5 separate regions of the Homo sapiens genome follow, and regions 2, 3, 4 and 5 are each linked to region 1. The links come from fine-mapping of genetic effects on gene expression. A gene starts in region 1. Each other region holds a variant in brackets. All regions are shown on one strand. Distances are between the middles of the regions.

Region 1 (5,104 bases):
GGGGGAGGAAGGGATAAATAGGTGGTGTACAGAGGACTTTTAGGGCAGTGAAAATACTCTGTATGATACTATGATACTATGAGGGTGGGTTCATGTTATTCTATATTTGTCCAACCCTATAGAATATACAGCCCCAAGAGTGAACCCTAATGTAAACTATGGACTTTGGGTGATAATGATCTGGCAATGTAGGTTCACTATTTGTAGCAAATGTGCTACTTTGGTTGGGGATGTTGACAATGGGGGAGGGTGTGGGGTCGGGTATATGGGATATCCACTGATTTTTATTTCAAAGATAAATCCACTTAGAGATCAACTCAGTCATCAATTGCATCTAATTTCTGGTCCTTTTGAAATGTGTCACATCAGCTTAGGACAGACCTTTCTTCTGACTCATCCAGTATTCCTGCAGCGACTGTTCTATTTATATACAGAATTACAACATAGCTCCAATAGGCTTAGGTAAAGCTTGTCAGTACCTTCCTGTTAACAAGGAAATCTGCTGCTGAAAGACCTTACTTTTGAAGTCTACCAGATTGGTGGTAGTATGGCCTGTGTTTTGAGTGGGTAGAGAGCACTTTTGAGGGAGTGAGGATTATTTCATCCAAAGGGCTGAAGCTACTGTTATCCCGTGTCATAGCTTCTGAGGTACTGAATGAGTAGGATCTCCTGGCCCTCCCATCTCTGTGGGTACCTCGTTCATACTTGCGACCTCAATATAGCCTCAATCCTGCTGAAGCCCAGTACTATCTCTAAATGTGGTTTATTGCAGGAAAAAGTAGCTTCTTGACTAGCCAAAACTTGACTGCCGGTTGTCAACTAGCCAGTTTTTGAGAAAAGTGAGAGGTTGTTACGTAGGAAACCTTATAACTAGAGGCTCTCAAACTCAAGTATTTAAGTATCATCTTTTAGATTTCTGTGTCCAGGATCGGGTTGCACTGGGTGGTGCTGGAAAAATTTTTTGATCTCACCTCCTTCTAGCCTTTTGAATCCTTAAAAATATTCCCATAGACATTTATACACAGTCCTGGGCGGTTCTTCCTTCTCCTTCCGTGAAATACTGGTACCTGCTTTGCCAACACCTATGAAAGTGCTCCAGGAGGAGGGCGGATAAGCAACTAATGAGCACACCTGCTCAGGTAGGGTTCTAAAACAATTTCCAGCCACCTGTTCTATTCTTCCCCAGAGTTCAAAAGCTTAATGGTTCGTGATCCAAAAACCCAATTCAGATTCCCCAGAAGACCTCCCTGGAATCCGTTGTGGATTCCTTCCTAGAGTTAGGAGGCAAGCAGGTTTCTTAGGCACTATTCTGTCGGGGTAGGGGGGAGCGTGCGCTGTCCGGGTTTGTGTGGTTGCAATAGACCCTAGGGCGAGGATCGCATCCCGGGCCAGGACTCCCTTGAGCCATCTCTTTTTCCTCGTCCCCATTTCTAGGATAAAACCCATTTCTCCGGTAGGTGGGGAGGTTGGGTTAGAGTCACACAGGGATTCAGGAAGCTTTCCTTTTCAACGTCCCATCCCTTCATCCTTTCCTCCCACTTCCCGTGGCTCTTTTCTCCACCTTCCCCAACTACCCCCTTTTCCATTCAGCGAAGTCCACGACGACTTTCCTTCCCTGTCCAGTGGCATCGCATCTTCTCTAGCCACATAAGCCTGTTGTGGAGGAGGGGGCGCCAGTGTGGCTACCCTGGAAGGGGTGTCGGGGGTGGCTCGCAGGTCCTCACTCACCCAGCCCTCTCCCCGAGGAGCGACCCTCTCGCCCGCGTCCCTCCAGAGCTGCGCCGCTCATCAATCCCGGTCACTCTGCCAGCCTGCTCCCCGGGCGCCCTTCCTTCTCCCTCTCGCCTGCGGTCCTCCACCCTCCCACCCCCTACCTACCCCGCAGCGACGTTCGGGGTCAGCGGCGCTTGGGGTTGGCCCGAGAAGGGGCGGGGATAAAGCGAGCGGTGGAAGGAGGCGGCTACGTGGTGCCACCGCCGCCCGGGAGCGCCCGACCCCGTGCGCGCGCGCGCCTAGCCAAGGCTTGGGCGGCGGGCGGAGCTGCGGGCGGCGCGGGCGGAGGAGCAGCCGGCCGGGCGGGCGGAGCGAGAGGCGGGCGGAGCGAGGGGTGGGAGGGCGCGCGCGAACGGGCGGGCGAGCAAGCGAGCGGCGTCTCCACCAGCATCTGCCGCGGCCGCCTTTGCCCGAAGCCCGGGGACGAACCGACGGACCGACCGCCTGGCGCACGGACGCGGGCGCTCGCTTTGTGTTCGGGGCTAGCGTCGGCGAGGCTTGAGCTTGCAGCGCGCGGCTTCCCTGCTTTCTCGCGGCCACCCCGGCTCCGGCGGCCTCGGCGCGCGAGGGGCTGGAGGTGCGGGAGCCGCTCTCCGCCGGTCGGTCCCCGCGCGGCTGAGCCCAGGCCGCCAGCGCCGCGGCCCCGTGCGGTGTCCCTGAGCTCCTGCTCCCCGCCGGGCTGCTCCGAGCAACGGTGCTTCGGAGCTCCAAACTCGGGCTGCCGGGGCAAGTGTCTTCATGAACCCAGAGGATGTCCGGGAAGCACTACAAGGGTCCTGAAGTCAGTTGTTGCATCAAATACTTCATATTTGGCTTCAATGTCATATTTTGGGTAAGTTGGAGCGCTCCTGGGATTCCAACTATTGTGGCCGATCGATTCGCGACGATTTCCCCCACGTTGTTCGTTGCCTTTACTTTTCGCAGCCCCGCAGGCGCTTGCCGGAGCAGCATAGAGGCATTCGCCTTCCGCCTTTCCAGCTTGCGCGTTGGAGAGATAAACATTTAATCCTTTCGAGGAATGGGAAGAGGTGAAAAGAGAAATCGAGGCGGAAAGGGGGCACCGAGGCCTTCTGGTGGCTTTTTGAGGAACGAATAGCAGGGATGCAGATAAAAGAAAGGGTTCGGCAGTTTGAGAAATGAGCAACCACACGAATTGGATTTGCTCTCGGTGGGATATAGATGTTGGGCAGAGCGTGGTGTCATAATAGGGAAGGCTAATCGGGCACGGCCGACCCTGAGGTCCACCTTCTAACAACGATCTGATTGGACGAGGGCTTGGCTCCGTGTTGCCGCGGCTGGTCTGTGCCATGCTCAGCGTGTATCTTCTTGCACCATCTCGGGCTTTGTGTAGGATGCAGATGCCGTGGTATATGGTCCTGTAATTGCACGTAAATAACGTTTCCTGCACGCTCTCCTCTTCAGCTGGAAAGCGCTCCCTGTGCGTAATGGACTGGTCAGTGGGGGTGCGGGGTAGAGGGATTTATTTGTATGTATATATCATCGTCAGGATAATAAGTCACCGTCAACATATATTTCAGTGTGTTCCTGCCCCACGTCCTCATTTTTAAAGGAGTGACACAGAGCGGGCCGTTTGGGGGAACCTTTGTAGAAATGCAAAGGAGAAGGTGTGCGAGGCATGTTTTATTGGGGAACCGAGAGAGCAAATGCTTTAACACAAGATTCAAATGATGCTCTGCTTGGGACTGCAATGTGTTGGGAACCTATTGTAATTAGGCTGGGACGCCTACTCTTTTTGTTTGTTTGTTTGTTTTGATTCTTTTCCTTGATCTGGCAAACGTGTTCAGCAGCCAGACAAAGAGTTCTCCAGGACAAGGGGAAAACGTTGGTTCAAAGACCATGTTATTTTTCTTCCCCTTCTCATCCCATCTCATCCTCTTCCTCAGTGGGCACCCGCATTTCCATAGAAAGTAAAGATGGTGGCTGTCTGGGTAGGGGGTTCTCTAAGTTGCTGTTCAGTGTGAGGTAAACAATGCTCCAACTGCAGGATCAATAATTATCCACAGCAGTCTGAACACGGAATGTATTTATTTGAATTCTCCTTTAATTTGGGCTGTTTGCTGTACGTATATACATCTGTGAGAATAGTTGTCAATACGGCTCTTCATATTCTTTTTTTGTACCGCACTCTTACCAGGTTATTTTATTTTCTGTTTTCTATTATAATACCTTGCATTGGTCATGTATGTTTTGTGAGGGGAAATGCAAGGGATTGGAGACCACTTTCCGTGTCAGCATGTCATCTGTCTTCAGGACTAATAAAGATAATGAGGGGACACATGAATGGATGTCATATCCGATCATTCCACAGGCAGTTTTTTGCCAGTGTTGTGCATGATTCCCGGGAGCAGTCACCCACCTCCCTGCAATTAAACACTGCTACAAGTACAGGAAGAAGGAATTATTTTCTTTCTTTGCCCCTTCTCCATTTGTGAAAATGTTTAAAAGTGGTGGGTAGCCACGGTTTTGAGTAAGATATTCTGATTTGATTGGAACTTGAAACTTTGTGACTTGGAGAGGCACGGACTACCGAACTGGGACTGGTTCTTTTTGGGGTAGTGAGTTCAGGCCTCTTGTTTCTACTTGAACATTTCTAAAAGTTGCACATTTTAGCTACCCAGCAACAAAAAGCACCCAGGGACTTTCTCTGCCGTTTCCTAGCAGGGGGTGGTAAGGAAATAAAAGGATTTGGGTCTGTTTCCCTGACAGTTTGCTGTAATTCTGTGGAGTGCATAGAGACAAATTTAGCCCTTTCTATGGATTAGGTTGCAGCAAAACCCCTGGAATTGTAGAGAGCTTCAAAGAATTGCAGAGTGCTTGCTTGGAGAGGTCCAGAACAGAGCCGCATGTTTTCTGATTGTGAAGGTCTTCATAGGTGGGTGGGTGAGTATGGGAAGCCTGAAAGGAGACCTAGGCTATGGGACTAAACTAGCTGCCCCAGGCAGAATTGTTAAGTGAGTGCCTTCCTTATGAGGGCCCTTCACTTACCCTGCCTCTTGCCTTCCCTTCCTCTCCTCTCTGTGCCCAAAGCCTTCCTCTCAGATACTCCCTCATACCTTTCCTATCCTGCTCTCTGCCTCAAAATTACCCCATATTTAAATTTCCTGCTTTATTGTACCATGGTCTCTAGTGATGATCAACAGAAAGGCAACCATATGGTTTTGGTTAAAGTAATTCAGACTAAGATGTTAGTGACTGAAAAGCTGGGGTCAGTAGCTTGGCAGCTTGCTTCTGAAAAGTTACACACCTCTGCTCTCTACAGAGTCACCAACCTGTCTGTGATTGCCAAAAACAGCAGACTCGGTGCTACTCC
Region 2 (5,104 bases), 100 kb after region 1:
CGGAGCCTCATGCTAGACAGGCCTTGGAGGCACGTCCTAAACAAGGAAAACACGCCCCCTGCCTCCCTCAATTGAAGATATTAGTCTCTTCAATCTCATTCAATTTTATTTCTCTGTGCTTAGCATTTAGAAGCAATTAAATATGTTTGTGGAATGAACAAACTAATTAACAGCATATTTAGAAAATCTCCCTGTAGTAAATATATTAAAGTTTTAGAAAATCATGATAATCTAAGTGAAATATTTTACAGATTATGGGGAAAACATGAGGGATGAAAATTTACCCTGCTCTGCTTTAGCTTTTGAAAAAGTCTGCTTATGAGCCACTCTCTTCATTGCTAATAATAACACCAGTGGGGGAAACTTGAAGAAAGAGGTATTTGTCACCAAATGGTAAGTTAGCAGCTTGTCTTGTTATCTGGGTTGGAACACAAAGTCATTAAGTGGCATTTGGACTAAATCTGATTGGAATTTAGAATCTACTTGGAGACAAACAAAATATACTTCTGCTTAGAAAAATTACATTTTCCACTTTAAGATGTTGTGGATTAGAAAATGATAAGAATTAATTTTAAGAGAACGCCTGTTTTTTGAAAGGATTGGTTATATGTTGGTGGAAATTCTTCAGGGAAGTGACATCTCTGGAGGGGGAAACACAAAAACAGCTCAATACAGTCAGTCAATTTATTCTACACTTAAGGAAAAAATAACTAAGTCTGCTTGCTGGTTTTCTGTGGGCTGTTAACAGCTGGTTGACTCAAATTTCTGCTTTCTACCAATTGTGAAAATTAAGCTTTAATTTAGAGGAGCACCTGGATGTTGAGACTCTGTCTGAAGATACAGGGGCTAAAAATGTTCAGATTCTGTCTGAAGATACAGGGGCTATGGCTTGTCTATGGTTACAGTTTTTGCAAATGCAGAAAAGCTTTTCGAGCCTACTTATGTTATGGAGTATTTCCAATAGTGGTTATTAAAGTAATTCAAGGAAAATCAGTAACTAATGATAATAAAAAAGTTGCCTTAAAATAGTGTTCAAGAAAATAGAGTGTGTATGTCATATTTTAGCACATAGAAAGGCTTAAACCCTCTTGTGAACTCCTACTTAACCATTTCTTTATTATACTCTTCTTACTCAGATTTATAAATTTTCCTTCCTTTCTGCAAAAAGACAGAGATAAATAAAGATACTAACTTTTCCCCGTCATTATATCACCCCATTACCCTGTTATGACAGTAATATTCATGTTGAATATCCGGTCATGTTTAGCCATTTGTATTGTGTTTAAAGTTATTTTTTATGATTTCCAAATTTGAAATACTGGAAAGGAAGATCCCAGCCTGATGGAAATTTTTACCAGAATAGTGATTCCTTTTTGCTGTAGAAAACATGGGAGGGAAATTGTCTTAGTGTCGTTACTGTCTAGTAATACTGTTTGAATTCTTGAAAGGCTTGTTTCCCACGGTGTTTTACTGCATTATATTCATGGAAGGGAACATGCAAGCCAGAGACAGTACAGGTTTTAGGCAAAGAGGCATGGGTTAGGATTCTGCTCTGCCACTCTGAAGGGAGTTATTTCTTCTGGCTTATTCTGTGTCTTTGTTATTTAAGTGAGGGCATTTACAGGACCTACATCATAGAGTGCTGGGAGATTAAACAAGAAGACATTCACAGGTTATGCCCTGCTGCTAAAGAAAAGGAATTACCATTTTCAATTTGTTGTCTAAAGACCATCTGAAAATCTTGCTGTCCCTCAGTTAGACTCTGGCCTATCCACAGTAGGTCAGCTTGCCCACATGGGTTTCAAGCAACTCCACTCTGCTCTGAGGCTCGCTAAGGGTGAACAGGTGATCATGAATGTGGAAGGCTGAAGAAGAAACTGGAAAAAGCTGAAACTGAATATCAGCATTTAGAAACTGCATTTGGAGTGCTGAGATAATAGAAAGCTTTCAAGGCACTTTGGAACTCTACATATGTTAATCAAGAGCCTCAAAAGCAGCCCATCGATTGGCAAACCAATCTCTTCAAGTGCCACCACATTAAAGTCCCTGGGGAAGCTGTGGATATTAGCTAGCAGCGGTGCACAAGCCGTTTACCCTCCCTTCGCTGCAACTTTAAAAACTTTTTGCCTAATAATCTCTGTTCTAAATTCAGTATGGATTTACTTAGCCAGCAGATTGAGATCCAGGGGGACAGTGTGAGACTTGGAAGAGTTTTATATTTACAGGAAAGTTGCAAAGATAGTACAGTTTCCATTTACTGTGCACCCATTTTCCCCTGTTACTAACACCTTATGTTAGAAATGCTTGTTCCCTGGTGCTGCAGAGAAATAAATGTATGAGCATTCGAACATACATTTAATAAAAATGGCCTTGCTAAGATGATTAAATTTATGTTCGAGTGCTGTTTCTTTGCGTCACCGGGGAACAAGTATTTCTAACACCTTACATGTTAATATACTGCATTTGTTACAACTAATGAGCCAATATTGATATATTATTATTAACTAAAGTTTGTACCTTATTCAGACTTCCTTAGGTTTTACCTAATGTCCTTTTCTGTTCCAGGATCTCACCCTGGGCACTACATTACGTTGTTCATGGTTTCTTAGGCACCTCTTGGCTGTGACAGTTTCGTAGACCTTTTTGTTTTTGATGATCTTGACAGTTTTGAGGAATAGTGTTTAGGTATTTTGTGGAATGTTCCTCAGATTTGTCTGTTGTTTTTCTCATGATTAGACTAGGGGAAGACCCACAGAGGTTAAGTGCCATTTTTGTTGTATCAGGGGTACATCCTGTCAACATGACTTATCACTGATGTGATCATGTCAACATAATCTTGATCACGTGGCCGATGCAATCCGCTGCCAGATTTCTCCACTGTAAAGTGACTCGGCCCACCTCCTTTGGAAGGAGGCCACTACGTACAGCCCTTGCATAAGGAATGGGGAATTTTGCCCTTCCC[A/G]GTTGTGGGCAGAATATTTACATAAATTATTTGGAATTCTCAGTTGTATTTCTAAGTGTGTGATTTTAAAAACTACTTGGATGTTAAAATGGTTACTGTTGTATTCATTATTGAGTGAATACTTACAAATGTGGTCTGATGAACATTTTATTCTACCTAAGGGAAAAAAACAGCTTCCCAAATTGCAGCCACCCTGCCTAGTTCAGAGACTGTAGAATTTGTATTCCTCCCCGAGTGTGTTCTTAGTAGCACGCCAGAAGTGCCAGATGCTACCCTCTCTTTTTCTGTGTCATGATTTAATACCATTTGTGCATTTTCTTCTGCTTCAGTTGATTTAGTGTCATTTTTGGAGACCACAGACCTATTTGTATTTTATATGTTACTATACAGTGTGTATTCTGTTTAGAAAAATAAAAACGCTAGTATGATAAAATGTACTATTTTATTATCTTTATTTTTAAAGTGTTACTATCAAAGACATCCTTTGGTGTCTCATAATTGGCTTTGACTTTGTTGCTCTCAATAAGAGTATATGATTCCAGATTTTCTGTTTAGTCAATGTTTAAACTACTTCATGTTTAACATTTATGCACATTATAATACAATGTGGTAATAAGGGTCATTTGGCTTCTTGGCTCTTTCAAAATATTGGTATAATTTTTAACAAATTTATTTTGAAATAATCATTTCACTTTTTGATGAGTATAAACTTGGTGAGAATTAGAAACTTCTTCAAAATATAGAAGTCTATTTTCCTTATCTTTGGCAAAGAATGATAATAATTGGACTTCAAAAGACCCAGCCCAGTAGTCCCCACTGCTAAAAATGAATAATGGCCTATCTCAATCCACAGAAGGAAAATAAAATGGGCTAATAGAAACTTTTTCAGTTTCATGTTTTTCTCCTGTCAACATTTCATAAGTGTTTGGCATTTGCTACCACATCTCTTTTGGTGAGTATTAGTGAAAATGAATGAATAAGTAGTAAAAGAATGTTAACAGAAAAATTTGGACACAACCAGTTAGTTTAATAACTCTATTATTTTATTGAGAACACGCAAGTTTAGGGTATGGTGTTTTTTTATTCTTTCTTAGGGTTGAAATAATCTCCCCTGCCAGGTACGTATAAGCTATGGTTTTAGATGGCATTCATATACTGCCATTTCTGCCAGAAAAATTATTCCTCGTTCATAAAAAGAAGCAAAGTATCTCAGTGTTTCATATTTTTCCTCAATAGGCAGCTCTGCTTCCCAGTGCTTTATCATCAGAGCAAGTTTGAAACCCACCACGTGGGTGAATGAGATGCAGTTAGGGAGTCTCTGGGAGCTTCCTGAGACAGGAAAGCATGGGTCATCCTAAAGTTGTATAACAATCATCTGTGTATCCTTCTACAGGAAGGATGGAATTGACTTTTCCACCCACAGATTTGGCATAAAATGTCTCTGCATCTGGGGCCAAGACAGTGTGTAAGGATTGTGAAGTCCCAGTGGTTTGGGTAGTAGGTGAAGATGCCAGTTCAGTGCTGAAGAGCCATTCCTACCTGTGTGTGTGTGTGTGTGTGTGTGGGGGTGCTGTGTGTGTGGGGGTGTGTGCTGTGCACGTGTGTGTGTGCGCACGCACGTGTGTGTGCGCGCGCGTGTGTGGAGTGATTTTTCAGTCTTTTTGCAGGGAGGAGAAAAGAATGAATTAGTAGCTTTGCTTTTGCTAAGGATATCCTAACAGTGTGGTGGATCCTTTTTGTTTAACAGGGTAGGTCAGATTACTGAGGAGCTGTTGGTTTATTGTTTTGTCATTAGTGCCATGAAGCTGCTACCGCTGGTTGTGGGTAAAGCAAGGCACATGAAAGCAGTCTGAAAATTTGTATTCAAGCTAATTTTTAATTTTTAACTACTTGTTTACTTATTTCTATATTTACCCTTTTAGCATAATACCTGAAAACTTAAGGGGTTGGGAAATATCATTCATACAGCCAATTTTTTTTAATACCTTCTGTATTCAAGGCACTGTGCTGGGGAAACACAAGTGGATAAGATGGACATGGTCTCCATTCTCATGATGCATACAGCCTACTAGGGGAGACAGCTGAAAAACAACTACAGATATAATTAGAAGGAATAATTTCAGGAAGTGTGGTTAGTAATAT
Region 3 (5,104 bases), 30 kb after region 1:
AGATGCGCAGGCCTTGTGGACGTTTTGCCAGTCGAGCGATTCAGCAAAGTAATTGCAAGGTTTCTCTAATTGTTAAATATCTACAACAGGCTGAATTTGGATTGGCTGAAAAGAAAGGTGAAATGAGGTCATCAGAATTACATGATTTTTTTCAAGTTCTGGCATCTTGTGTTCTTTGCCAAGCAGAAATATTCCAGTAGAACTGTGATAATGCCTTTCATCTATCTGCTGAGCCTTCCAGATGGCAGTTTCTCAGCCAGTGAGCAAAAGAAAGGGTGTTGAGATTTATGAGTAAGTTGATTCCCTTCGTTTGTACTTCCCAGTGAACTCTCATTCGCTATTTGTGCTAAGCACCAGTGGCAAGTTATCCTCACATCTTTAGCTCTGCAGGGCCCTTAAGCCAGTAGGCCTTACTTCAAGGGGAGGAGGGCTTCAAATTCAGAGTAATAAATAGCTGTCTAAATAGAGCCCTTCACATACTTTCTCAGAGAACTTTTTGTGATCTAAGTGGACTTAAGTTTCTTGAGGACAGGGGCACTCCTTTCTCCTGGGTAGCACCAATGCACAGGAAGCTTGGCGTTGGATTCCGTGGGCCCCTCCCTTTCTAGTTATGTGCACAGTCTCCCGGGTTGAGAGAATCCCTCCCTTTGCTAAGTCATCTTCATTCAATCCAGGGATGTTTAGGGAATATGCGTGCCTCGGATGACAATACAAGATGGATTAAGGTGATTCTTGTGCTTTGAGAGCTCTCAGTCCAATGGAGGAAAAACATATAAATAAATACACACATAAACGAGAAGTGGTGTATAAGTCTAAAGATCAGGTAATGAGGGAATGTTTTAGAGGAGGTGGTGCTGCTGTATGTATTGGAGGCGGGTAGGGATTTGCTGAGCAGAACATGTGCCATGTTGTTTTCTCCATCAGGCCTCATGGCTGGAACAGCTGCAGTGCTTTTCGTTTGGTGCCTCCTCTGCTTTGCCTTTGTCCTGTTCTTGTTCACTTTGAGCACCCTTGCAGCCTACCCTGGGCATAACCCTCCAGGAACTCTGATGCTGTTTAGTAGATACTCAGAGGTTACCACTTAATCCTTGTTGGTTAGTTTTGTTCCCCAACTCGAGCGTGAATTCAGGACAGGGCCCATCTCTGACCACACCAAATGCAGTCAGTGCATATGTTAAGATTTAGGGAAAGCGTTTGGGTTGGTTAGTCGAGTATTTTCATAGATTATTATTACCTGGTTATGTAAGTATGACAAGACAGTTTAACAATGACACAAATATAAGCAGAGGATCTGATTAAAAATACTTTTTTTTGAAAGGGAAGCATAAGTTTGTGGTCAGCAGCAAATAACCCATTTGATCTTCATTCATTTATTCTTCCATTTATTCACTCACTAACAGTCTGTACCTTTGTGAATAGCAACAGTCTTTTTCTTCATTGGTGTTTTTTGAATGCTGGGTTTTTACTGCCCTGGGGATTTTCTTTAAACCTGATAGTTGTTTTGATAAATCATCTGGATACCAGCTTTGAGCTAATTCTTTTCTATTAAGTACCTCTTAGAGTGGCTGACCATAAACCATTTGAGAAATCACTACATTTTATTAATGACTTTTGAGATTTAGCAGCAACTTAAATTAATAATACTGGAGTGTGCTTTGGATAAAAGACCAGGAGACTGCTTCATTCTGCAAACCAGAGCAGAGATGAGAATGTTTGCATTAGGAGAACGTAATTTATCAGCATTTTAGGCTAGTGTGTCGATTGATACAAGGTTGGGCAATAGTGGTAGGCAGTGTTATAAGTGCTGTTTGTATGTATCAGCTCATTTAATCCTCCCAGTAACCCTTTAAGATGTCTGCACTATTATTTTTCACATTATTCTGATGAGGACATCGAGGCACAGAGGGGTTGTGTGACTTGCCTGCAATCTTGGTTGTGTGCTCAGAAATAGTCTTTTTGAGACTGAAGATATTCTGGTTATGTGTAATACACAGTACAACTCAAAGACTGTGAAATAGTTCATAGACAAATTATCCATTCTTTGCCACTTTAGAGTAATTATGCTTATTGTTTCTGTTTCAGGATAATATGTGTGTGTTTATAAGCATTTTTTCCTTTTTATTTAATTGCAGTAACATATACATAAATAACTATGATGGCTAGTTTTGAACTCATTTAAAAACAAGTAAATTTATG[C/T]TTTGATAAGCTAAGGTACATTCAAAGCATTCCCATTTCCAAAGCAAAGTGTTTTCAGTTAAAGATTATAGATGTTGCCTTTTGCCAGGGATGCTTGTGAGAATGTCATTTAGAGAAATCTTAAAGTAATTTATCCATAATATTAACTTAGCATGCCTTCTCTCTGCAATGTACAATGTATCATAGGACAATGTATGATACAGCTCAGTTTTGATATATCAGCAAGTTGAGTAGTAATTTTTGTTTGTTTGTTTTAGTTGTTTTAAAAGCTGGTGTTGCAGATTCCTATGCTTAGAAGGACCAGGCAGAAAATAAGCCATTAAGGGTGCTGGGAATGCAATAGGGAGTGATGGGGAGTGTGGTAAAGGGGTCAGCAATGCTTCTGCCATGCCTATCAGGGAGCTGGTTTCCATTAGCTGTTGGTTGACCCAGGAATCTGTACCTGTGTTGCCAGATCTAACCATTTTCCAGGAGAGGCTGGAACTTCATATTTAAAAAATGAGAATTTGTCAACTTTAATAATTTGGAAGAAAATTCAAATTAAACCAATACCAGGCAGTGTGGTGTACCCCACATTACAGAGGAAAGTAGGGGACTTGGGAGGTACATGAGTCAATCTATAGATGCTCCTGTTGTCATGTTAAACTTGTGCTTGCTTTCAGTTGCTGTTAACATTTTGGGTCCACTGTATCTAGACATGTCCTTCAAAAGTTGCATGTAAGTTAATTTTTTTTTCTGTATTTAAAAAATGGCCCCACAAACACTAGTCTAGATGTTGAAAAAAACCCTTATACCTTATTATGGAGACTTCTGATGAGTCCTTTTGTACAGTGAACAATCACTTGCTGTATTTACGTTTGTACTTTTGTGTTTAAAATGGGGAATGGTGTTAGATATTGCATACTGCTTGAGTTAAGGAGGTCGTTAACCAGGAATGCTTTGGATTACTCAGATTATTATTGCACTGGTGTTTGTTGTAATGGAATTTGACCTGTCAGGGGAGCTGTAGATGTTTGGATGAGTGTTCAGTCCTTAATACTGTTATCTAAATTCTAGGCATGTTGCCTGTAACTTCCAGTTTCAAAAAATCTATGTCAATCTGTTCTTTTATAACCTAGTGCTGTTGTTTTTTTCCCTCTTGTTTTATATTTAATCATTCTCTTTGGCTCACAACAGCAGTCCAGTCCAAAGATTTACTTTTTCTATTTTCAACCCCATCATTATTTTTGTGTAAAAAGTATGTTTTGAGTTACAGCAATTCATGGAGATCAAGCTTCTACTCTGTAGGGAGAAGAGAGATGTCATTTACTACAGAGTTTATACACACAAATGTTCTGCTGCATGCTGTGTTCCCACTGAAATCCAGGGGGTTTATTTGCATTTATACTTAAAGAAGAATGACCGTATTTGGCTGACTCTAAGCCAAGATGATACAGGCCCAAAGTTTTTCATGGAGGAATGGGGGAGTAAGGGAAATAGGAACATTTGGAAGAAATAGTTGTTGTTTTTCCCTGTTTTATTCAGTGGGCATTTTATTCACAGATCATTTGATGCATTGCATTTACTCGTGTTATTCTGGTTCCTTTTGTGTTTTTTTTTTCCTTTTGAAACAACTTCACACTTACAGGAAAATGGCAAAAATACTAAAATAAGAACTCCTATAAACCTTCACTGATAAAATCCCTTCAGTTTTCTCCAGTTATCCCAGTAACGTCCTTTATAGCAAAAGGATCCGGTTCAGGATCACTCATACCCAGCTGTCATATCTTTCCAGTCTCCTTCATTCTAGAAGCATTCTTCATTCTTCCTTCATCTTTCATGACACTGACACTTTTAATTACAGGCCAGCTGATGTGTAGAATGTCCTTCCTTTTCTTAGGAGATGTTTTCTGTCCTTCCTTGAAAACCCCACTAGTGTTACCTGCCACGAGGAGAGCTAGGCGCTCTGCCCCCTACCCCAAGCTGGTTGCTCTCTCTTACAATGCTTCATTAATCAAGTACCCTTTTTTGGAGCATTGATGATATTCATTCATCCTTTTAGCCAGTAAATATTTTTTGATGTCTATTACGTGCCAAATGGGATACATTTAAGAACAAAGCAGACCAAAAAAAAAAAAAAAAAAAAAACCTGCTCTCATGAAGCTTACATTTTAGTGGAGGGTAACAGATAACCAACAAGAAAAAATAAGTAAAACAGCAAGTACATTAGATCATTAGATAGTGATAAACGCTAAAGAGGATCGAATCAGGCAGGAAAAGGGATGGGCAGGTTCTTGATAAAGTGGCCAGGGAAGGCCTCCCACACTAGTGATTGTGGAGCAGGAACCCCAAGGAAGGGAAGGAACAGGCTGTGGGGCTAGCTGCAGGAAAGCGGTCCCGGCAGAGGGAGCCTGTAGGGGTGAAGGTTCTGCTGCACCAGGTGGGCCAGGGGTGAGGAGGAGGCGGTCTGGTGGCTGGAGCCAAGCAGGAGGGGAGAGGAGAGTGGTAGGAAATGAGTCAGAAAGGCAGAGCAGGGAGATTATTCTAGGCTTGTTGCCACTGAGGGAGATGAGAAACTCTGGGGGAATTTTGAGCAGAGAAGTTACATGATCTGACTTATGCCTTAAAAATCCTTTTGTTGTTTACGGAATAAGCAGGTATGTAGGGATGGGGTCAAGGTTAGAAGCAGAGAGATCAATTTAAGATCAATTATGGGAGGTTATGATAAGCCCTTTGTGTATCTGTTTGTCCTATTAGCACATAAAGGGGACTCAGTGGTCTTCAACCTTTAGAATACATAAGATGTACCTGGGCTGTTCGTGAGTGATGCAGATTTCTTCACTGGGAAACCAGCATGTACCTGGGCTGTTCGTGAGTGATGCAGATTTCTTCACTGGGAAACCAGCATTCATTAGATCTCACCTGTGTT
Region 4 (5,104 bases), 150 kb after region 1:
ATGTTTCAGTTAACAGCCAACTGCATATACAATGGTGGTCCCATAAGATTATTATATTGTGTTTTTACTATGCCTTTTCTATGTTTAGATACGTTTGGATGCCAGATACTTACCATTGTATTACAGTTGCCTACAGTATTCAGTACAGTGACATGCAGTATAGGTTTGTAGCCTAGGAGCAATAGGCTATACCATATAGCCTAGGTGCGTCATAGGCTGTACCATCTAGGCTTGTGTAAGTACACTATGATGTTTGCATGACTACACATTTCTCAGAACGTATTCCCTTTATTAAGCAACACGTGGCTGTAGTTTAGCCATACTTAGCATTCAACAAATGCCGGCAAAATTATTGTTATTTATTTTAAAACATCAAAATTTGGGTTGACAAACATTTGTACTGTACATTTGCATATATTGCCATGTGGGAAGATGCCTCAGATAAGATGCCTCAGATATATTTTTTTCCATTTCAAAAGAGTAAAGGGTTGACTTTAAGACTTCTCAGCTATTTCCTGCAAGTGGGCCTCCCTGGGTTTCAGAATGAGGTCAGTTTCGTGGTTTATGGTTGTCTTTTCTTTGGGAGGTGGGAAGGGGAAACTGAATGTGCCTCAAGTATTGCATGCCTGTCTCTGTTTTTTGGCTCTTCTCTGTTTAATTATTGGGAACTGGAACAACTTGATTTTAAAACAAAACATATGGTCTGAGAATAATTGGGAGGACATTTGCTAGTGATGTAGCACTGAAGGTATGTATCAAGTTGAGGCCCAGGCTTGCACCACTTGCTTGCTTAGGTATTGAGTGTTTCCCTTAACTTCAAATTGTGTTCTTTCCCAGTTCTTAAACCCTTGTTTGGAAAGTCACAGTCAAAGCAGGAAATATGGGAGCAAGATTATAAAGGAAATTGTCTGTGAGTCTTCTTTAAATCCCTACTTTTTTTCTCTCTCCTCTTTATGGAAAACCATTGGTTTCCAAGCTATTTATATGGCTCGTGAATGAAAAAAGTTGTCTCAAAGTGCCAAGAGGAGAGACGAAAACTTTATTTAAAAAGGAGAATGTGGACCCACCATTGAATTTCTCTGTTCTTTTGCTTAACTCCATTGTGGACACCAAAGTGGGGAATTTCTGTTCCACAGCCAGTTCTTATGTGAAGGCAAGGTTTTTATCTCTCTTTACCTTTTCCACACCCCTTTGCTTGCTGGGGGAGGAATATATGATATGCTGATCATGTACCATGTAATTCCAGCCTGAATGCCTCAACTTTTTATATCATGGGAGCAAAGGGGAATTTATCAGGACTGCTAAGAACATGTATTTCTCTTGTTCAAGTCTCTGCTCCTCTGCTTAGAAGCTATGTGCCTCTGAGCAAGTTATTTAAACTCTCTAAACCTCATTTTCCTCTTTCCTAAAAAGGGGATAATAAGAGCGCCTATTTCAGAGTAAAATTGTTGTGAAGCTTTAAAGAGACATTGCACACAAAGCACTAAGCATGATGCCTGGAAAGTAATAAAAACAAATCTTAGCGATCAAGCAGAGGCCTTCGGCAGGAACATGTCCACACCATCAGCAGCAGGAGGGACAGTGAATACTGCGTCAGGGAAAATAACCAAACATTTGTCCATGAGGAGCTTCAGCATTGGAAAGTCAGCCATTTCACTGGGTTGTGTTTGATGTCAATGGGTTGAAGTCAAAGCCTTAACTCTGTGCTTCTGTGCTTCCTAGGTCTCATGGGAGCCTGTACACTCACTTGTCAGTGGTCGTTCTCTTTTGCCCAGCACCTATAAATATGAGAGTAACATGCTGAATTGTTTTACTTTTGTGCTACAGAGTCCTAAGTACCTTTGAGTCTTTTGGAGATTCACTTGTTTTGGATCTGAAATGTAAAATGAAATAGCTCTCTGACCAGGGCTGAGCACGGTTTTTCAGTTGGGATAGTAAAACGAGAAATCTTTCTGAACACTTTCCAAGGAGTCCCCTATAAGAGCAAGGGGTAGGAAGAAAGGGGTCTTCAGTTCTTGCCAAATCAAGGACATGATTTTCTGTATAGGGCTCAGAATGTATTGTGTGTTGTCTTGCTTCAATGTCAGATGAGTGTCGAGAGCTTCGGGAAGGTCTGCTTTTTAAAAACACCACTATGTTTTCGGAGCAGCTAATTGTCTTTTGTCAGTCCCCTTTTCTTTCTGCTCCTGCCATCTGTCCAAGTCCCGTTTGGATTTATTAGTGATTGCTTACAAAGTATCAGGAACTCCCTGCTGAGAACAGTGAAGCCCTTGCCCAGTGGGCAGGTCTCGGATTTCCCTGGAACTGTAAAAAATAACCACTCTCACTCATTTTTTTCTCTGCATACCCCTCTCAGTGGACCACTTTCCTCACATTAACTTAATCAAGATGTTAGTAAAATAAACGGTGTGCTGCCATCACACTGAAACTTCTTGTCTCTTTTCAGTGTTTGGAAAGGAAATTGAGAGTTGCTATTGATAATAAAGATGAAGCATATCTTTACTCATGGCCAATTACACACAGTCCTGATCATTGGATTTTTAGTGGGTGGACAGCTCTGTACAATGTGTCATCAAGTCTGTGTCGCCCCAGTTACAAAACACTCCATTGTTTTCTATATCAAGGGGGAAAAA[AT/T]TATGAGATACCATGGATTTTAAGATACATCCCAATTTCAGATGTGTTCAAATGTGGGGAAAATATATGTATCTTATAGCAGATGGAATACAGTGAGAATTAATTAAAATGGAAAGCCCTAGTCCGGGAGTGGTGGCTCACACCTATAATCTCAGCATTTTGAGAGGCCGAGGCGGGAGGATTGCTTGAGCCCAGTAGTGTGAGACTAGCCTGGGCAATATAGTGAGGCCTTGTCTCTACAAATAATTGAAAAATTAGCCAGGCATGGTGGCATGCGCCTATGGTCCCAGCTACTTGGAAGGCTGAGGCAGGAGGCTCGGTTAAGCCTGGGTAGTTGAGGCTGCAGTGAACTGTGATTGAGCCACTGCACTCCAGCCTGTGTGAGAGAGTAAAACCCCATCTCAAAAAAAAAAAAAAAAAAAAGAAAAACAGTAAAATGGAAAGCCCTCCTGGTTATCACCTGTTCCTCTCCTGGCATTCCCCCAGTCCTCAACACAGCTAATTGACAGAACGGTGAGATTTGTGGGTATGTATGAGATGTGCCTCTGCCTTAGGGCTGAATGCGTAACTCAGTCCCATGTGTTGTATACTCTGTGTATGCATGAAGTTGTGGAACTGAGTCAAAACCAAGAAGGGTGGTGGGAGGTCCTCTGAACTAAAATTTACACAATCGAAGTTTCTGAAAACAGAACTTAGGAATTTTCTTTGGGTTACATTGATAAGATTCTTGTTACCTTTGGAAGGCATGATCAAAGAGGGACATCCAAGGCTCTACATGCCCCTCGCTGACCTGGCCCATTTGTAATGGCTCAATACTGAAGAGAAGATCCCAGTTCCTCTAAGTTAATGCCTCTGCTTATCCATTTTCTAGTGACCACAGGCCTCAGATCCATGGGGAATCCGTTTCCTCCCCTACCCTAAAAGGCAGCATATTAAATGTTATTGATAATTTCAGTGTACTCAGGATTCTACCTAATTATTACTCTTCATAATCTGAATGACTTCTAACCAACTGTGTGTCTCCAGCCCTTCTTAATGCTGTAAAAATTTTAAGTAGGGGGATTATGGTATTTATTTTCCTGGTAAAGATAAGTGCTCACACTTTAGGAAAAGCTATTTCCCAGCCAGGTAAAGTGACAAAAGAATTGATTGAAAAGTTTCTTCTTTATATTAGCGGCATTTTCCCTTATATTTACACTGCTTTCTTTCTTTTTCAGTTTTTGGGAATAACATTTCTTGGAATTGGACTGTGGGCATGGAATGAAAAAGTAAGTTGAATATCATGACAATGCACACATCGTGGTTGTTAGAGGCTGCACATCATATTATGTATTATCCCCCTTTCTCTTTGACAACCACAGAGTATAAACATGGCTCTTTAACAAGAAAAAGTGTTGGTGGAAGATTAATGTCATACTCTCAAAGACACTTTAGGAATTGTGCCTAAATTGATGACTGCATCAAAATAATTACTGAAGTAACAATACACGTGCTCAACAGAGAATATACCTTGGAATTTGATCAGTTAGCCAAAGATCGATGTTCCTATGGGATATTTTCTCACTCAGGCACAAGAATTCCAGTAATGATTATAAATATCACTAAACCACCTGTAGCCTTTTTTTCTCTTCTGCTTTTTTTCTTCAACTCTTTGGAAGATAACTCAAGATAAAAACGATTTTTTTTAGTGTGTTATGTGGTAAACAACTATTAGCATGTGGATTGAAGGAAGTGGGATATAACTTCATGTTTGAGTATCAAATACACTCATCATTAATGTAAATAATGGGAATGTTTGGCTGCTGGTGGCAAGTATTAAGAAATATTCAGTTTATGATCAAATACAGTATAATAAAAGGAAAATCTGGAAATACAGAGTAATCTATGTGACAGTGAAGATACAATGTTCTGGGCAGTTTCTGCTCTAAGCAACGCACTCATGCAGACACCCCCTGTGTCCACACCTCTCCTTCCCATCGCACCTTCTAATTTTTCTCTACAGCTCCCCCTACTGAGGCCACCAGTGGAATTCAACAGTGAATATAAACACCCGCCCCCTCCTCCCAGCTTTTTTCCTTCCTTCTTTGCAAGTGAAATCACCTGCAGCATTTCATCTATCCTTGTATCTGGCTATACACAAAAGCTTTATTATCTCCCACGTAAGGACAAGGGGATGTATAGAATGGTTAAAAGCTGCCATAAACTAAAATCTAGCTTAAAATTTCCCAGAAGACCATTCTTTGATCCCGTAGGTGTTTCACCCTCTAGCCTGACCCTGGCCTGAAGCTGAGAGTTCCTTTGAAGTGGTAAATGCATTAAGAAAGGAGAGAAAAACTGGGAAGGTCCAGTCAACAAAAGCCCCTCAGAGGCCAGTAGGCATTTCCACAACTAAAACAATGTTCAGACAGACCATATAAAACAAAACTCAAAGCAAATCCTGAGTTTTGCAAATGAACCATCCTGTATTTAT
Region 5 (5,104 bases), 47 kb after region 1:
ACAATAGGGACTAGAGAATTTTATGGGGAAAGGTTGGCATATTAACAGTCATTGAAGTAAGCAGTCTGGGACCCTGTTGTGTTATAAGGGAAGGGATTTTGGACCTTGGTGTTTTGCAGAGGCCATATTTGCATAATTAGAGAGCACAGGATTATGGGTAAAATGGTTGCAACTACTAAACTAGCCTAGTTTATATGGATTCTTGTTCATTTGCAAAATACCTTTTCTGTGTGCTTGTTGAAACCATAATATCCTGGGTAGGTTTTATTACAATAACTTATGGTCTAGTAAACATATCTGGAAATACCATAAGAGAAAGCATAGGCAACATTTGTAAGCCTGCTGCTTTATGAAGAGATTGTGCTTATCAGAAATTGTAGCATTACTGTAAATTTTTTCTTTCATATGGAGTGATTTACTTGGTATTTCAGTATATTAATTTGCTAGGAAAATGTCAAGTTAGTACTTCTCTCAAAAGGGCATTGTGCATCTGAATCACCCGTGGAATTAAAAAAAAAAAAAAAAAGGTTTTGCCCTCAACCCAGATGTGTTGTGACTTAATCTCCAGTTCTGGGCCTGGGCACCCATCTAAAATGGTGAAGAGGACAGAAATGATTCTTGACTTCTTGGTGTGTACGTCTGTGAGGAAGCCAGATGATAAACACTGCAGGGGGAAAAAACCATAATTGTAAATTGTGATAAGTGCTACGGTGAAAAAATAAAACACGGGGTAAGAGACTGGCAGAAAGAATGTAGTTTTGATGGGCGGGAAGGCCGCTCTGAGGAAGTGAGACCGCAGCTGAAAACTCAGGGATGGAGAGGTTAGCCCTGTGGGGGGAGGGAGGAAGGAGCATTTCAGGCTGAGGGGACAGAGTAAGGGAGGCCTGATGTGGAGAGGGCTTGGTGGGTTTGAAGAGCTGAGATGATTGGGACTTGTGGCCAGAGATAGGGGAGCGGGGGGAGCCCCGCGGGGAGCGGGAGAGGATGGTGCTCCTGGCAGAGATGGCAGGTGGCCTGCTGTTTCTATTCTGTGCTCCTTAGTGTCTTGGTTATGAAATGACTTGCCAAAATGTCCCTTTAAAAGAAAAGGGGTCCTTGCCAGTTACAGCAGTGTCACTGTTTAGGTCTGCTAAGCAAATTCTAGGGTGTCTGATGGCTTTGTGTTGGGAGTTGTAAATGGATTTCATTTGAGAACATGACAAGAACTGAAAGATTAGTTTAAGCAAAAGAATTTAATTGAAGGATACATCATTGTTCTTGTAAATCCTTTGATATTTGGCTGTTGTCTTCCAGCCTTTTCATTCCCTGCATCCTGTCTGCTGCTTGCAGGACTGGGCTGTAAGCCTTCATTCACCTACAACCCTTTTGTATTGCTTGGAACTTGCTTGCTTCTTCCTCCTGCTCCTCTTGTTCCCCACTCCTCTTCTCCCTTCACCTCCCCATCCTCCTCCCCCTCCTCTTCCTCCTGCTTCTCATCTCTTCAGATGGAAGAGAGATGGGAAAGAGCATTCACTTAGTTATTCTTTGGAATAAAATATACGTCAGTTTCCAGCGAGGGAATTCTGGCAGATTTACTGACAGGTGACAGTGTCTGTGTAGAATTAGGATTCCTAGGAAACATTAGTTCTAACTACATTATTGATAACAATGCCATGTGCATTGTAAATTTGGGACCAGGCCCTGCATGCAGTTGTGTGGTGGTTCCCTACACAAGGGCTCCTGGCTGAAGGGCAAATGAGGGTGGAATCCACTGAAATGCAGCCCACTCGCCACCCTCCACGGCCCAGGCCAGGGGATGGAGCTGGGTCAGTCTGGAGGAAGAGGGTGTTCTTTTCTGTTTCTTACGCAAGCAAATCACCAGGCCCATTTCTTGACTCCTTCAGAGGTGCCAAAAGGGCTGGTGATAGCCCTGCCTGGGACAAACCTCAGTGACTTCTGGGTCGCACATTCTTGCCTGGGAAGACCCTGTTCTTACCTGGTAAGGCACAATTGAAACTATGATTGGTCCACTTCACAGACGAGGCAGCTTGTTTTCTCCCCTGGTGTGTTATTAGTTTTAATGGACATATTTGTGCAATCAGTGTGTACAGTTCATGTTGGTAAGCATCTGGCATATTTTCATTATTTTAGAATAATGCTATGCTGAGCTCACATTTCAGCTTCTTGTCAAAAATAGTAATATTCTGGTATGGCAGATTTCCTTCTGGGGCAGTACTTCCCACCAGTGTGTGCTGCCTGGATATAGTTTCATTCACAGAGGCTGCTTCACATCACATTTCAATGCATTTGTGCTTTAATAGTTGATTCTTAGTATTAATAAAATTGACCGGGTGCTTTCATCTCCAGTTTATAAAGGAGGAAATTGTGCAAGGGGGAGGCTAACTCACTTGCCCTAGACAAATTAGAGGCTTGTTTCAGGGTTGGAAAACAGGTTCTCATATTCCTTCTGGAATATGTTAAGGTGTGGACTAATCTCTTCTGTGACAAGGACATCCCTGAGTAGTACAGTGTGTCCTCAGATCGTAGTCCAGAGTTAAGAAGTCAGGGTTGGAGGAGTTCCTCTGCCTTCCTCCATGCCTGGCTGTCCAGATGGCTCCGTTTGTCACCATGTCTTAGCCAGTGGTGCAAGTGGCTGTGTCTTTAAGAGGGTGACCTCAAAGTTGGACACATTACATCGAGTCATATCACATCACGGTATAGTCACAGGAACAAACCTAGTTCCCAGGGAGCCTAGGAAATATAGTCTATACCTGGGGAGCGGGGTCAGGGGGAATCACATGCCTGACTAGAGCTAGGGGAGTTCAGTACTAAAAAGAGTAG[C/G]GGGGAGGATGCCGGGGCACTGACTACCACATTAGTCCTCGTTCCTCCCTGAACAGCCTTAGGGTGGGTGAGCAGCCCTAAGTGAGTTGTTAGCTAACAGAGATGTATAATGAAGGGGCACCACAGAGCATTTTATATTCCTACTGTAGCCCTAAATGAATAGGCAGCTCTTTGTACATACGCTTGAATATGCTTCTTGGAACCAGTTCATTCACTCGACAGATACGTGCTGAGCGCCAGTTCTTTGCCTGGGTGCTGTGTGGTCTAGTAATTGAAGGTACCTGTAAGATGGCCAGGGCCAGCCCTGCTCATCATGAAGGGCCTACTTATGTAGATAATTTTGAACCTCAAATAGGAGGGAAGTTGGAGTTGATTTACCTGTCATTAAGTTGTTAAAGAAAGATTTTTCCTACTGGTAGCAACTGAATGGAGCTCTACTATGGTTTGAATGTGTCCCCCAAAGAGCATATATTGGAAACTTAGTCCCCAGTGTAACCGTGATGGGAGGTGGAGCCTAATGGGAGGTGTTTAGGTCATCAGGGCTCCCCCTCATGAGGGGATTAGTGCTGATTATAAAAGGGCTTGAGGCTGAGTTCGATCTCTTGCTGCCCCTCATCTTTTGCATTCCACTATGGGATGATGCAACAAGAAGGCCCTTTGCAAATGCCAGCTCCTCGGTATTGTGTTTCCTAGCCTTCGTAACTGTGAGAAATGAGTTTATTTCTTTACAAATTACCCAGTCTGTGGTATTCTGTCATAGTGACACAGAATGGACTAAGATGAGCTCAGAGGGAGAGAAGGCTGTCTAGGCCCGGGGCCTTTGCTGTACAGCAGCTGGGCTAATGCCTCTGCGAATTATATTAGCCTGTTTGTGTTAAATGAGGAGCCCTCCTGCTTGAAAGAGGCAAGGCATTCTGCTTATGAAGCCAGAGAAATCAGTCAGGCAGCCTCTGACTTACCTTTGCCCTCCCCTTCTGCTCAGAATCCTTCAACTCACTGTCCGTCAGGCTCAGCCCTGTCTCCCCTGGTCTCTCCCAGACCTGCCTTTCTGGGTGTGGGGTCTTCTTGCCTCCCTAGGTAAGGGACAGATAATGCCTTGACCACCCAGGGAAGAGGAGTTTGGGACATTACCCCTGAACTGAGAGGTGGTGCTGATGAGAGTAATTAAGCACCCAGAGACATTGTCCTTCAATACATTGCAAAGGAAAGCTTGCTCAGAGTAGACCTGCACCTGGACACGAGAGGCTGGAGACTGTATTCAGGACAGTGCTCGTGGGGAGCTTCCTTCACTGCTCCACTCTTGTGTCCTGTGTTACAGGGGCTGCTGGCTGTTGCCACTGTTTTTCAGAGAATGGGCTGCCTGTACACACCTGACTTGGGTGATCATGTCTACCCAGGAGGACCAGCAAAAAGGGACAAGCAGTGATGCCATCTGGTTTTACCTCCAGCATTCCGAGCACTGCCCTGGCCCTCTCCCCCAGCCAGTGGTCGGGGTTGGGTGCGCCCCACTCTGGCTGCACAATAGAGTAACGCAGGAGCTTTAAAAACTCCCAACACCCAGAGCTCACCCCCAGCAAATCCGACCTAAATAGTCAGGCATGGGGCTTGGACAGCAGTATGTGTATATATTTTAAGGTTTCTTAGTTGAATTTAAATGTTACAGTGGGGATTGAAAATCTTGGTCTAGTGGTGGTAGCTGTTGGGTTTTTTTTCTTTTCATTTTTTTTGCATCCATTCCTGTTACTACCCTCTAGACCACTGTGATTTCTTAGTCTAATCCTGACTTGCTACCTGAAACCCTCTAAATGTAAGTCTCGTGCAAGAGAGTGAGAGGTAAAGTTTGGTTTTTATGATAAGAGATACCTTGCTCAGTAAGCAGAAATAAGTGCCATGTGTTAGTAACTACAGTTTTGTTTTGTTTTGTTTCCTGTGGGAGCGACAGAAAAGAGTTTACAGGGTGTGGTGGGGAAAAGAAGAAACGAACATCTCTCTGAGGGCGAGTATAAGGTTGTGGACTTAGTGGGAAAAGTCCTCAACTTCAAGTCAGAGAGAACTGTCGAGGAGAGAGACTGATGAAGAAGACACAGTGAGGTTTTTAGTGGTTAAAAACACAGCACTGCGTTTACATAGTCTATTTCCCCCCTAACAGTGGCAACATGTTGTGGATTTTCTTTTTTTTTCTTTTTCCTGGAGAGAAGCATGCTGCCTCTGAACAGTGGAGAGGAGGAAAATCATCAGCATCCTCATTGGGGTCAGGTGACCTGGGCCTCGTTCTTCCGCTGCC

Which allele goes with the higher level. Positions count from the first base shown, and alleles are read on the strand shown. Sizes are in standard deviations (SD) of each study's normalised expression.
For the expression in lung of the gene that starts at base 2,140 in region 1, allele A in region 2 goes with a lower level than allele G (small effect, 0.25 SD a copy in GTEx).
For the expression in unexposed skin of the gene that starts at base 2,140 in region 1, allele T in region 3 goes with a higher level than allele C (small effect, 0.11 SD a copy in GTEx).
For the expression in fibroblasts of the gene that starts at base 2,140 in region 1, T is the low allele of the variant in region 4 and AT is the other (small effect, 0.15 SD a copy in GTEx).
For the expression in skeletal muscle of the gene that starts at base 2,140 in region 1, G is the high allele of the variant in region 5 and C is the other (moderate effect, 0.47 SD a copy in GTEx).

The links. PIP is the estimated chance that this variant, and not a neighbour inherited with it, causes the effect.
Region 2: its variant is the best candidate, but not a certain one, in a credible set for the expression of TSPAN5 in lung (GTEx, PIP 0.75).
Region 3: its variant is the best candidate, but not a certain one, in a credible set for the expression of TSPAN5 in unexposed skin (GTEx, PIP 0.71).
Region 4: its variant is the best candidate, but not a certain one, in a credible set for the expression of TSPAN5 in fibroblasts (GTEx, PIP 0.59).
Region 5: its variant is the best candidate, but not a certain one, in a credible set for the expression of TSPAN5 in skeletal muscle (GTEx, PIP 0.64).

Annotation. Positions count from the first base shown.
Region 1 is chr4:98,655,647-98,660,750 of GRCh38, reverse strand. It overlaps TSPAN5 (tetraspanin 5), which reads left to right and starts at 2,140. Exons shown (of 8, transcript NM_005723.4): 1 at 2,140-2,605. The coding sequence starts at 2,525. TSPAN5-DT (TSPAN5 divergent transcript) reads right to left here and starts at 1,849. Exons shown (of 3, transcript NR_148380.1): 1 at 1,729-1,849. It overlaps LOC112267901 (a long non-coding RNA gene), which reads right to left and starts at 2,028. Exons shown (of 3, transcript XR_939016.3): 1 at 1,879-2,028. RefSeq lists silencers at 1,983-2,162, 2,416-2,575.
Region 2 is chr4:98,555,464-98,560,567 of GRCh38, reverse strand. All of the region lies in intron 1 of TSPAN5 (tetraspanin 5), which reads left to right. Among named protein-coding and RNA genes, the nearest start is that of TSPAN5, 100 kb to the left of the region's middle. The variant A/G (reference allele first, on the strand shown) is at 2,963.
Region 3 is chr4:98,626,106-98,631,209 of GRCh38, reverse strand. All of the region lies in intron 1 of TSPAN5 (tetraspanin 5), which reads left to right. Among named protein-coding and RNA genes, the nearest start is that of TSPAN5, 30 kb to the left of the region's middle. The variant C/T (reference allele first, on the strand shown) is at 2,197.
Region 4 is chr4:98,506,476-98,511,579 of GRCh38, reverse strand. It overlaps TSPAN5 (tetraspanin 5), which reads left to right. Exons shown (of 8, transcript NM_005723.4): 2 at 3,852-3,902. Among named protein-coding and RNA genes, the nearest start is that of TSPAN5, 150 kb to the left of the region's middle. The variant AT/T (reference allele first, on the strand shown) is at 2,634.
Region 5 is chr4:98,608,559-98,613,662 of GRCh38, reverse strand. All of the region lies in intron 1 of TSPAN5 (tetraspanin 5), which reads left to right. Among named protein-coding and RNA genes, the nearest start is that of TSPAN5, 48 kb to the left of the region's middle. The variant C/G (reference allele first, on the strand shown) is at 2,821.